2 separate regions of the Homo sapiens genome follow, and region 2 is linked to region 1. The links come from fine-mapping of genetic effects on gene expression. Tissue or cell type: prefrontal cortex. Region 1 holds a variant in brackets; the other region holds the start of a gene. All regions are shown on one strand. Distances are from middle to middle.

Region 1 (5,203 bases):
AAAATTAATTGTGGGCCGGGCGCGGTGGCTCATGCCTGTAATCCCAGCATTTTGGGAGGCCGAGGCGGGCGAATCACGAGGTCAGGAGATCGAGACCATCCTGGCTAACATGGTGAAACCCGCCTTTACTAAAAATACAAAAAATTAGCCAGGCGTGGTGGTGGGCGCCTGTAGTCCCAGCAACTCAGGAGGCTGAGGCAGGAGAATGGTGTGAACCCGGCAGGTGGAGCTTGCAGTGAGCCGAGATCGTGCCACTGCACTCCAGCCTGGGCAAAAGAGCAAGACTCTGTTAAAAAAAAAAAAAAAAAAATTACCAGTTGTGCCCAGGGTACAGGAGGAAACAAACCAAGGGGCAAGATAGAAGATAACAGAGAAAGCCTATTTCATGGGGATATGAAGAAGGTATTTTTGAAATGATGAAATACAGAAAATGGCTAGGATGAAATACAGAGAATGACTAGTAAAGCAAGGTGACTGGGGACAGGGCTTCAAGGGGCAGTGCCTTTCAGGATAAGATCCGGGGCAGGGAAAGACTGGCACAAGTGTTAGGTAACACATGAGCAATTAATAGTGAAGGACAAGTGATTCACTTGACTCTTAATCGCCTATGTTTGGCTCTGCTATGTTCTGGGGGCAAGTAATGGATAATAGCCATGGAAACAACCTTGGCACTCAACTACAAACACTGTGTAAAGTAAGTAGAAAAGAATTGCTGTTTGCTTCCATTATTTACTGTCATACACTTGTCCTTCCTAGGAAGGGGCCGTCCCAGGGCCTGATGGCTAGCTTGCACTAAGCAGGGTTTCCAACTCAGGAAGGGCAGAGTCCCCAGGTCTGCAGTTGCCATGGCAGCAGGGTATCCTGTTTTGGCTGATAGGTACTGGAGCCAGTAAGGCTGGGTCCAAATTCTGCCCCTCCCTCTTACTGGCTGGTAGTGGGACTTTAGGCATCTCTTCATACCCTTCCCCACATGTGTAAGAGTGGAACATTGTGAGGGTCAAATGAGGTAGTATTTCAAACACTTAAAAGAATACCAAGCTGGGCATGGTGACTCACGCCTGTAATCCCAGCACTTTGAGAGGCTGAGGTCAGGAGTTGGAGGCCTGAGGTTAGGAGTTCGAGACCAGCCTGGCCAACATGGCAAAACCCCGTATCTACTAAAAGTACACAAATTAGCTGGGCCTCGTGGTGGGCACCTGTAATCCCAGCTACTCAGGAGACTGAGGCAGGAGAATCACTTGAACCTGGGAGGTAGAGGTTGCAGTGAGCCGAGATTGCACCAATGCACTCCAGCCTGGGTGACAAGAATGAGACTCTGTCTCAAAAAAAAAAAAAAAAAAAAAAAAAATTGCCTGATACCTGAGATGCACTATTTAATAGATATCATTTAATTATTGTGTAAAAAAGGAACCGTGAATCCCATCACTTCTGTACTGCTTTGTTAGGCTAAAGTAAATTGTTGTATAAACTTTTTAAATATAAAAATAAGTGGAATACTTGCAGATAATTCAATAGAGCACCCAGATCACTAGCATTAAAGCCTAGGGATACTAAGTAATGTTGGAGGAAGCAGCCATGCAAGAAACCAAGTAGTCATGATTAGAGCATTTGCTACTTCTAAGGCAAAGTCATTTGTGGCAGGCATGCTAGTTGCCAACCTAAAACCCATTCTCCCCACCTTTTTAAAAATTAACATACTCCTGATTTTGTTTGGGGCAGTCACATGCCCAGGTAACAGACTTCCCCACACTTTCTTGTAGCTGGGAGTGAGATTTGAACCAATTTTGGCCAGCTGCAGCAGTTACTGAGTGGAACATATTCGAAAACATTTCAAAAGAAGCAGATTTGGGTGGAAGCTGCCTTTTGCTCTTCTTTTTTTTTTTTTTTTGAGACAAGGTCTCACTCTGTTGCCCAGGCTGGAGTGCAGTGGTGCAATCTCAGCTCACTGCAACCTCTGCCTCCCAGGTTCAAGCAATTCTCCCACCTCAGCCTCCCAAGTAGCTGGGACTACAGGTATGCACCACCATGCCCGGCTAATTTTTTGTATTTTTAGTAGAGATGGGGTTTCACCATGTTGGCCAGGCTGGTCTCCAACTCCTGACCTCAGGTGATCCTCCCGCCTCAGCCTCCCAAAGTGCTGGGATTACAGGCATGAGCCACCGCGCCTGGCCTTTGCTCTTCCCTTTTAATCCTAACTAGAATGGGTATGTCAGACGCCTGGAAATGCAACAGCCTTCTTGAGACCATGCGGATGAAAATTTTATGCAAAGGAGGGCAGAGCGGGAAAACTGAAGGAGCACCAGTGCTTGGCTTATTACCTCTGGACTTAAATGAGAAAAGATAAATTGCTATTTGATTGACCTTCCATAGCTGGAGTACAGTTACATGCACTCTAACTCAGTTCCAACAAAAAGGGTCAAAGTGGTTTTCACTGTTGACCAAGACAACTGTTTCTTCAGCCAGTCGAAGGCAAAACTGATGATGTAACAATGGCTATTGGGTTGGGTGTTCTCATTGCCCTTCAGCTCCCACTGAATCTAGGTTGTAACGGTGGTAAAACTATAAAGTACACCAAGAGAAAGGCATTCTTCCGATCAAGATGCTTTTATTAGAATACTAATAAATGCAGATTAAAAAAAAAAAAACCTCACACAGAAAAAGAGGA[G/A]AACACTCAGAAATGTGATTACAGATTAGGCATATTAGAGGAAAAAGAGTTCTTCAGGGTATACAAAATGTAAACATTTGCCCTGGGATTTCCCACAGATGGCACAGTCCACATGGACTCTTTTGGAACAAAAAAATGTCTATTAAGTCTCCAGGATAGCCTCTATGACATCTGCAAACTTGCCACATTAAAAGTTAAAGTTCCTAAAACTTTCTACGCAAAACACAAAATGGCTCCCAATCCAGGCAACTGGCACATGTGGAAGCAGAATACCAAAGCAAATCCGTCTTCCAACCATCAGCTTCGACTCCCTCCAGCTACTGTATTTACATTTACCTTGACAGAGATTACAGAGATATACACAGTATATAAAACTCCTACTTGAGGCTGGGGTGGGAGATGAAATCTTTCTTGCTTATCAAATGCTCTGGGGAGAGGCATCAAATCAGTCCTTTAAACTTAGGGACAGAGGACTAAGAAGACGCCCTCTTTTGTTCAGAAAATGGAGACTCATAAACTTCCATGGGTGGGCAGGTACAAACCAGGTGCTGATCTCCATATATGTCATCAATCCGGGCAATCGTTGGCCAGAATTTGTTCTCTGGTTTCACGAAGGGCTGCAAAGGACAAAAGATGGAAATGCTGTGAGATGTTCTGGGAGGTTTCTCTTAGGGCAAAGGAGGTGGCAATGCTAGTCCCACAACCTAAGACACCATCAGCCCAGCAAATATTCTGAGAACCTAAAATCCAACCCTACATTACCATTTAAAAAAAAGAGGCATTTCCCAGGAGGCGTGTCCCTGATCACCACCCCTGTTAAGCATCCCTATGTGCTGTTGATATCTGGACCAGTTTATAGCAAAGTTGTGTTTGAAAGACTTCAACTGCTTAAAGAAGACTTTGGAATCTATGTTTATCTGCCCATTATATCCTTAAGTTTGGATATTTAGCTGACCTTCTCTTTTAACATAGGTCTAATTTATTTGCTATGTCATTTTCCATACAATTCAGTTGATTTAAAAGTTAATTTCTCGGCTGGGCGCAGTGGCTCGTGCCTTTAATCCCAGAACTTTGGGAGGCCAAGGCAGGCAGATCAGCTGAGGTCAGAGGTTCGAGACCAGCCTGATCGACATGGAGAAACCCCATCTCTACTAAAAATGCAAAATTAGCCAGGCATGGTGGCACATGCCTGTAATCCCAGTTACTTGGGAGGCTAAGGTAGGAGAATCGCTTTAACCTGGGAGGCAGAGGTTGTGGTGAGCCGAGATGGTGCCATTGCACTCCAGCCTGGACAACAAGAGTAAAACTCTATCTCAAAAAAAAAAAAAAGTTAATTTCTCATACTGTGTATTAAAATAAAAATTTGAACGATTAAAAAAAAAGCATCAGCTGGGCGTGATGGCTCACGCCTGTAATCCCAGCACTTTGGGAGGCCGGGGTGGGCGGATCACGAGTTCAGGAGATCAAGACCTTCCTGGCTAACACAGTGAAACCCCGTCTCTACTAAAAATACAAAAAATTACCCGGGCATGGTGGCAGGCGCCTGTAGTCCCAGCGGGAGGCTGAGGTAGGAGAATGGCGTGAACCCAGGATCATGCCACTGCACTCCAGCCTGGGCAACAGAGCGAGACTCCGTCTCAAAAAAAAAAAAAAAAAAAGAAAGAAAAAAAAAGCATCATTTTGTTTCCTCTCCTCTCCAATGAATACAGGATTTACCATTCTCATTATGTTTTTATACTATTACTGCATAGATCCATAAACAGCACATAGCATAATTTGGCACATTTTTAGCCTTCTCCCTACCTCACTCAAACAGACTACACAGAACCTTCTCCTCCATATAAGAATCAGAAAGGAAAGGAAGGTTGCACTGGGCGCCATCTCCCTGTCCCACAGTGGAGGGAAACACATTGGTCCACTGGGCAGGACTCGTATTCAGTTTTCCCCCACTCTGTTCCCTATGGGTTCCCAGATCTGTGGTTGATACTGTGTGACCTCGCCTCTGAAAGCCAATTTCTTTGCTCCTCATTCCTCTTCAAGACCCTTATTTCACAAGGTGCCCCACATATGGTTTCTGTAATCATGAGGCTAAGAGCGTACACCCGTCAGGATAGGAGCTGGCCCATGCCTTCCCAGCTGGCACATTCAGATTCAGAGAACTTACGAGTGGGAATGCTGCCACCTCTCTGGAATAAGGCCGGTCCCAGTGGGAAGATGTAACGCAGGTCAGGGAGTGTGGAGACATCTGAGACAGAGACACGGACAGAGGAGGGGTCAGAGCAATACACTCTCTTCTCCTCCTACCCTGCACCTCAACCGTCAATCTTCTGACAGGAGCCCAGGCAGAGAAAGCTGTTGTTTTCTTTCAATTTAGGGGGGTACAATGTGATTTATAATTGTGAAATATTTTAAATATCAGAACGTTATGGTAATAATCATCACATCCACCACCCAGTAAAGTCTAATGAGCATTCTGTCATATTTGCTTCATCTTTTAGAAAAAATTACCTACACGTTTGGTGCTGCCTGTATATCCCC
Region 2 (5,122 bases), 110 kb after region 1:
GCATAGCCTGAGCAGCCAACCTGAAGCAGATAGGCTCCATACCTCAAATGTCCACCTTCAAACAAAATAAAGCTTGCCATCTGCACACTAGATCCTTTCTATCATAGCAACAAAATAAAACAGCTGCTCTCTCTTCATTTGACTCTAGAAGAAAAAGAGATAAGTATCTCCATGATTGAAAGTGAGATAACCAGATGAGATTTTTTTTAAGAGCTCAGCCTGTGCCCTTGACTTATGGATTGTCCCCCCACCCCATGGAAGTCAAATACCCACATAAAAATACCCCTGAAAAGCAATCTTGGACCATTAAAAATATTTTAAACCTAAAATAAAATTCTAAGAAAGTCTATGACTAAACTGACCTTTCTTAAACAAATGTAAATCTTATTTGTGTGTTTTTCTAGAAAAACCATTCGGGGTAGGGCACAGTGACTCGTGCCTGTAATCCCAGCATTTTGGGAGGCCGAGGCAGACGGATTGCCTGAGGTCAGGAGTTCGACACCAGCCTGGCCAACATGAAGAAACCCTGTCTCTAATAAAAATATAAAAATGAGCCTGGTGTGGTGGTGCGCCCCTGTAATCCCAGCTAGTCAAGAGGCTGAGGCAGGAGAATTGCTTGAACCAGGGAGGCGGAGGTTGCAGTGAGCCGAGATCAAGCCACAGCACTCCAGCCTGGGCGACAGAGATTCTGTCTCAAAAAAAAAAAAAAAAAAAAACGAAAAAAAAAAGAAAAGAAAAGAAAAACCATTCGGACTCGAAAAGTACTGCTGTCTTTCAGTTGGTAAATAATAAAATTTGGACGTGAGGTAAGAAAACAATTGGAAGATACTGCGATCTAAAGAAGCCTGGGGGAGGGAGGCGAGATGTCTGGTCACTTCCCCAGTTGCACGACCTTAGGCAATTCCTAGATCCTTTGAGTCTATCCGGGTCTGCGCAGGTAATGACACCTCTCAACCCAAAGTATGAGAGCACCCTGGCCGGTGAGAGGGTGCCTGGGAAGTGGGGAATCTGCTACAAAACGCAGGGGAAGCTCGCGGGGGCCCTAGGATAAAGACCAAGAACCGCACAACACCGACTCTCTCCTAACACAAAACTGTCTGCTCCGAGAACCAAATATCCCACCTTCCCGCGGCTCCGGAGGTACCCGCCACTGTTTTATTTTAATCCACACATTCCCAGTCCTGAGCAATCCTTACCCCAGAGCTCGATTTTCAGGGAACCACAAAAGACAAATAGGCCAGAATAATCTAAGTCCAAGGGAGCCCTCCCGGCCACTTACAAACAGGGTCTTCCATTTTCAAGGGTCTTTTCAAACGGATGTTGGCAGGGACCGTCTTCTCGATCAATTCATCAATGCTCTAAAATTAAAACGCAAGGCAGAGGAAAGTGCCTCTGAGTTAAAAGAGTCACCTCTGTGTTTTGCGACTACAAAGCCTTGTGGGAACCTCATTGAAATCGCCTAATTAGGGTTCTTTTTAAAAGAAAAGGAAAACTCTGAGCAAGCCAGAATGATTTGGAGGAAAGAAAATCGTGAAGTGGGGTGGAGATTCCGCCACTCGGGGTTGGATTTCAGTTGCAACCGGAGCTAACCGGTAAGCCCACTCTTAATCAGGGGGTCTTCCTCCTCTTGCAAAGTTTAGGTCCATCCACAGGGCCACTTGGGCTGGGGGTGGTTTAAAAATGTACACTTTTGAGGCACGAAGACTGGGTGCAGGAGAAAGTAAGCTGTTAAGAAGTAAGAAGGCACGAGGACCAAAGGCACGAATTTGCTTCCACGCCACGGCCCGGGACCCAGGGTGCGGGGACCACGCGGAGCGCAGCAGAGCTCAGGGTAGGAGCCGGGAGGCCGCGCAGGCAGAGCCCGGGCAGGGCGGAGGGGAGGCCGCGGAGGGCCGGGTGGAGGTCCTTACCGCCAGCCCCAAGGTCTGCAGCATCTCTCTCTGGTCTTTGTCCCCAGGGCCGATGTGCCTCCGAGCGAAGTCGTCGTGTCTGGGCAGAAGGCGCTCCAGGAGGCGCGAGGCCCCAGCCGCGGCGCTGTCCCCGCCGCCACTGCTGCTGTCCCGGCTCCGCGGCGCCCAGCACGGCCCCGATCCCCCAGCCAGGCGGCGGCCGCCCCCGACCCCGCGGCCCAGGCGCAGCCCCCACGCCCTGGCACAGGACTGCATGGCCGCGGCCACCGTCCCCTGCCCCGGCCCGCAAGGGTCAGCCGCGCTCTTGGCCCCTCTCCTGGCCTCGGTCCCCCGGGTGGCGGCTGCGCCCGGCCTGGAGCCCCTTTCGCTGGACAGTCGGCCGGACAGATGGATGGACGCTCGCGGGCAATGAATGGGCGCTGCGCTCAACCAAGACACTCGCGCAAAGTTGTGGCTCCACCCAAGGCACCTGCTCCGCACACTTTAAGCGGCGCCCTGGAGGCGGGAGGTGGGTTGGGGCCAGGAAGCCCTTGGCCAATGAAAGTAGACAGAGGGGGAGGGGGCGGAACAGTTCCCGCCCCCGCCCCCTCTTCCTACCCTCTTCCCAGCCCTTCCGTGGAGTCCCGCTTCCCCTGGACCGGAGGCTGCCATCTCCAGTCCTACCCACTCCGACGCTGGCTGGTGCCGGGGGCCGGGACGCTCCGTACGCCGCCCGCCAGGGTGTGGAGCCGCACTGGGGCAAGATCAGGTGGGACAGCCCAAAGACTCCGGGCCAAGTTCCTGGGGGACTCGGCGGAGATGGAAGATGATTCTCGAAGCTCTCCATTTCCTTAATTTTGAGGTATCTTTCTCTGTCACATTTCATCTCAGGGAAATTAATATGGGCAGATGGCGGTTCTTTTATCTTTGCGGGAGCGTGATAAAGTTACTCAACCTCTCAGAGCTTCAGTTTTCTCATCTCAACAGAGCTGGATGGGATTTTAAAAAGAGATTATATGTACATGGAAAGCACTTGAACAGTAGATTTGAACACCCTCTCTATATTTCTTTTCTTTTCTTTCTTCCTTCTTTCTCCTCCTCCTCCTCCTCCTCCTTCTTCTCACTCTCTCTCTTTCTCTCTCTTCCCCCCCACCACATGTAACGCTATGGCTCACGCCTGTAATCGCAACACTTTCGGAAACCGACGCGGTAGGATAGCTTGAGCCCAGGAGTTCGAGACCAGCTTGGGCAGCATTGTGAAACCCTGTCTCTACAAAAAATACAAAAATTAGTGGGGCGTGGTTGCGTGCTTCTGAAGTCCCAGCTACTCTGGAGGCTGAGGTGGGAGGATTGCTTGAGTCAGGGAGTTTCAGGCTGCAGTGAGATGTGATCGCACCACTGCACTCCAGCGTGGGCCACAGAACGAGACTCAGGAAAAAAAAAAAAAAAAGAACTGTGTGTGTGTGTGTATATGTTTTTTTAAATATATGTACTGTATATACATATACGTGTGTGTGTAAAACTACAAAGGATATTTTGTTGTTGTTTTTGAGACGGAATCTCGCTCTGTCGCCCTGGCTGGAGTGCAGTGGCGCGATCTTGGCTCACTGCAACCTCCACCTCCCGGGTTCAAGCGATTGTCCTGCCTCAGGCTCCTGAGTAGCTGGGACTACAGGCACGTGCCACCACGGCCGGCCATTTTTTATTTTTATTTTTAGTAGAGACGGGGTTTCACCGTTTTAGGCAGGATGGTCTCGATCTCCTGACCTCGTGATCCGTCATTACAGGCGTGAGCCACTGCGCCCAGCAAAAGTACAAAGGATATTAAGATAGACATTGTTCACTGTCGTCTTACTTTGAAAGTTAGCCATCTAGAACTGGATTTTTTGTAAATGTACCATCTCCAGCTGTCTCATGACAGTTTTAGCAAGAGAATGAACTTTTAAAATTCCAGTTGTTCTAATATGGGGAAGAGAGGACAGAAGTAATCAGAACATTACTTGTACTTAGACTAGGGGAAAATAAAACCTGTTCTCTTTCTTGCTTATCTGCTAAGTTTCCTCCTCCAATCACCCTTAACAGATTCTGGGCTCCGTACCCAGGAGGCACAGACTATCCAGAGAGGCAGGAAAGTAGAGATGGAAAAGAGGGCAGGAAAATACACCACAAAGAACAGTAGGTAAAATGTCTGTATGGCAGACGGAGGCGGGTGGTGAGCTAGGACGGCTGGGCTGAATGTCTCCGAAAAGTTTTTCGGCCATTTGGAATTGAAATTACAACCTTCATAAAAGTTGGGAGATCTCCTCAGTGCCAGATGGTGGGGGTTGTGGGGAAGGATTGGAGGGAGGAGGTAATCTGCATTTATTCCTATTCCTGTCTATGTTGTTTCTATGTATCAGAGGGACTGGAAGCCAGGGAACAATAATTCCCAGATCCCTTTGGCTCCGTGGTGATGGATGTTATTTGCCTTCTGCCAAAAAAAAACATGTATATATACACACATATATGTATATGAGAATTGGGGCCGGGTGCGGTGGCTCACTCCTGTAATCCCAGCACTTTGGGAGGCCGAGGCGGGCAGGTCACTTGAGGACAGGAGTTCAAGACCAGCTTGGCCAAGATGGCGAAACTCAATCTCTACTACAAATATGAAAAAAAATTTAGCCAAGTTTGGTGGGCGTGCTTGTAGTCCTAGCTACTCAGGAGGCTAAGGCATGAGAATCACTTGAACCTGGGAAACAGAGGTTGCAGTGAGCGGAGAGCGCACCACTGCACTCCAACCTGGGTGATAGAGCAAGACTCTGCCTAAAAAAAAAAAAAGAGAGAGAGAGAGAATTGGGAAATGGAACAAAGGTAAAAACTGTTTTCTTATTTTCTGACTGCAGCAGACAGATGCATGGACCACTGCAGACATGACATGCTTCCTTACCAGCACCCCATCTTGAGGTAGCTGGGAAGCTGTATCCACCAATGGGAATGTCCTGCAGTTCCCCAGCAGGAATTTCTGTGTACTAGACTAGAGCTTCAGTGGTTGACCTGAAGATAGCGTTGGTATTCCCTGGTTTTTGCTCTTCCAGTTCTTCCAGTGGTTTTGTATGCACCCATTCCTGACATTTAATTCTCCTCTGCTTGAAATGCATTGAGTGTTTTTTGTTTATTTGTCTGTGTGATGTTGTGAAATACATATCTGGTATTCATCCCATTTCCTGGCCTGCAACTCCTAAAGTCTTGGG

Alleles and levels. Alleles are on the strand shown, and positions count from the first base shown. SD is a standard deviation of normalised expression in the study named.
For the expression in prefrontal cortex of the gene that starts at base 2,395 in region 2, G is the high allele of the variant in region 1 and A is the other (small effect, 0.27 SD a copy in BrainSeq).

What was found. PIP is the estimated chance that this variant, and not a neighbour inherited with it, causes the effect.
Region 2: GLDC starts here. The variant in region 1 is fine-mapped to the expression of GLDC in prefrontal cortex (BrainSeq, PIP 0.95).

Annotation. Positions count from the first base shown.
Region 1 is chr9:6,529,879-6,535,081 of GRCh38, forward strand. It overlaps GLDC (glycine decarboxylase), which reads right to left. Exons shown (of 25, transcript NM_000170.3): 24 at 4,830-4,910; 25 at 2,589-3,282. The coding sequence ends at 3,139. Among named protein-coding and RNA genes, the nearest start is that of GLDC, 110 kb to the right of the region's middle. The variant G/A (reference allele first, on the strand shown) is at 2,666.
Region 2 is chr9:6,643,335-6,648,456 of GRCh38, forward strand. GLDC (glycine decarboxylase) reads right to left here and starts at 2,395. Exons shown (of 25, transcript NM_000170.3): 1 at 1,911-2,395; 2 at 1,280-1,358. The coding sequence starts at 2,165. RefSeq lists enhancers at 1,605-2,162, 3,143-3,252, 3,303-3,402, 4,389-4,944, 4,945-5,122 and silencers at 1,843-1,912, 1,953-2,152, 2,223-2,472.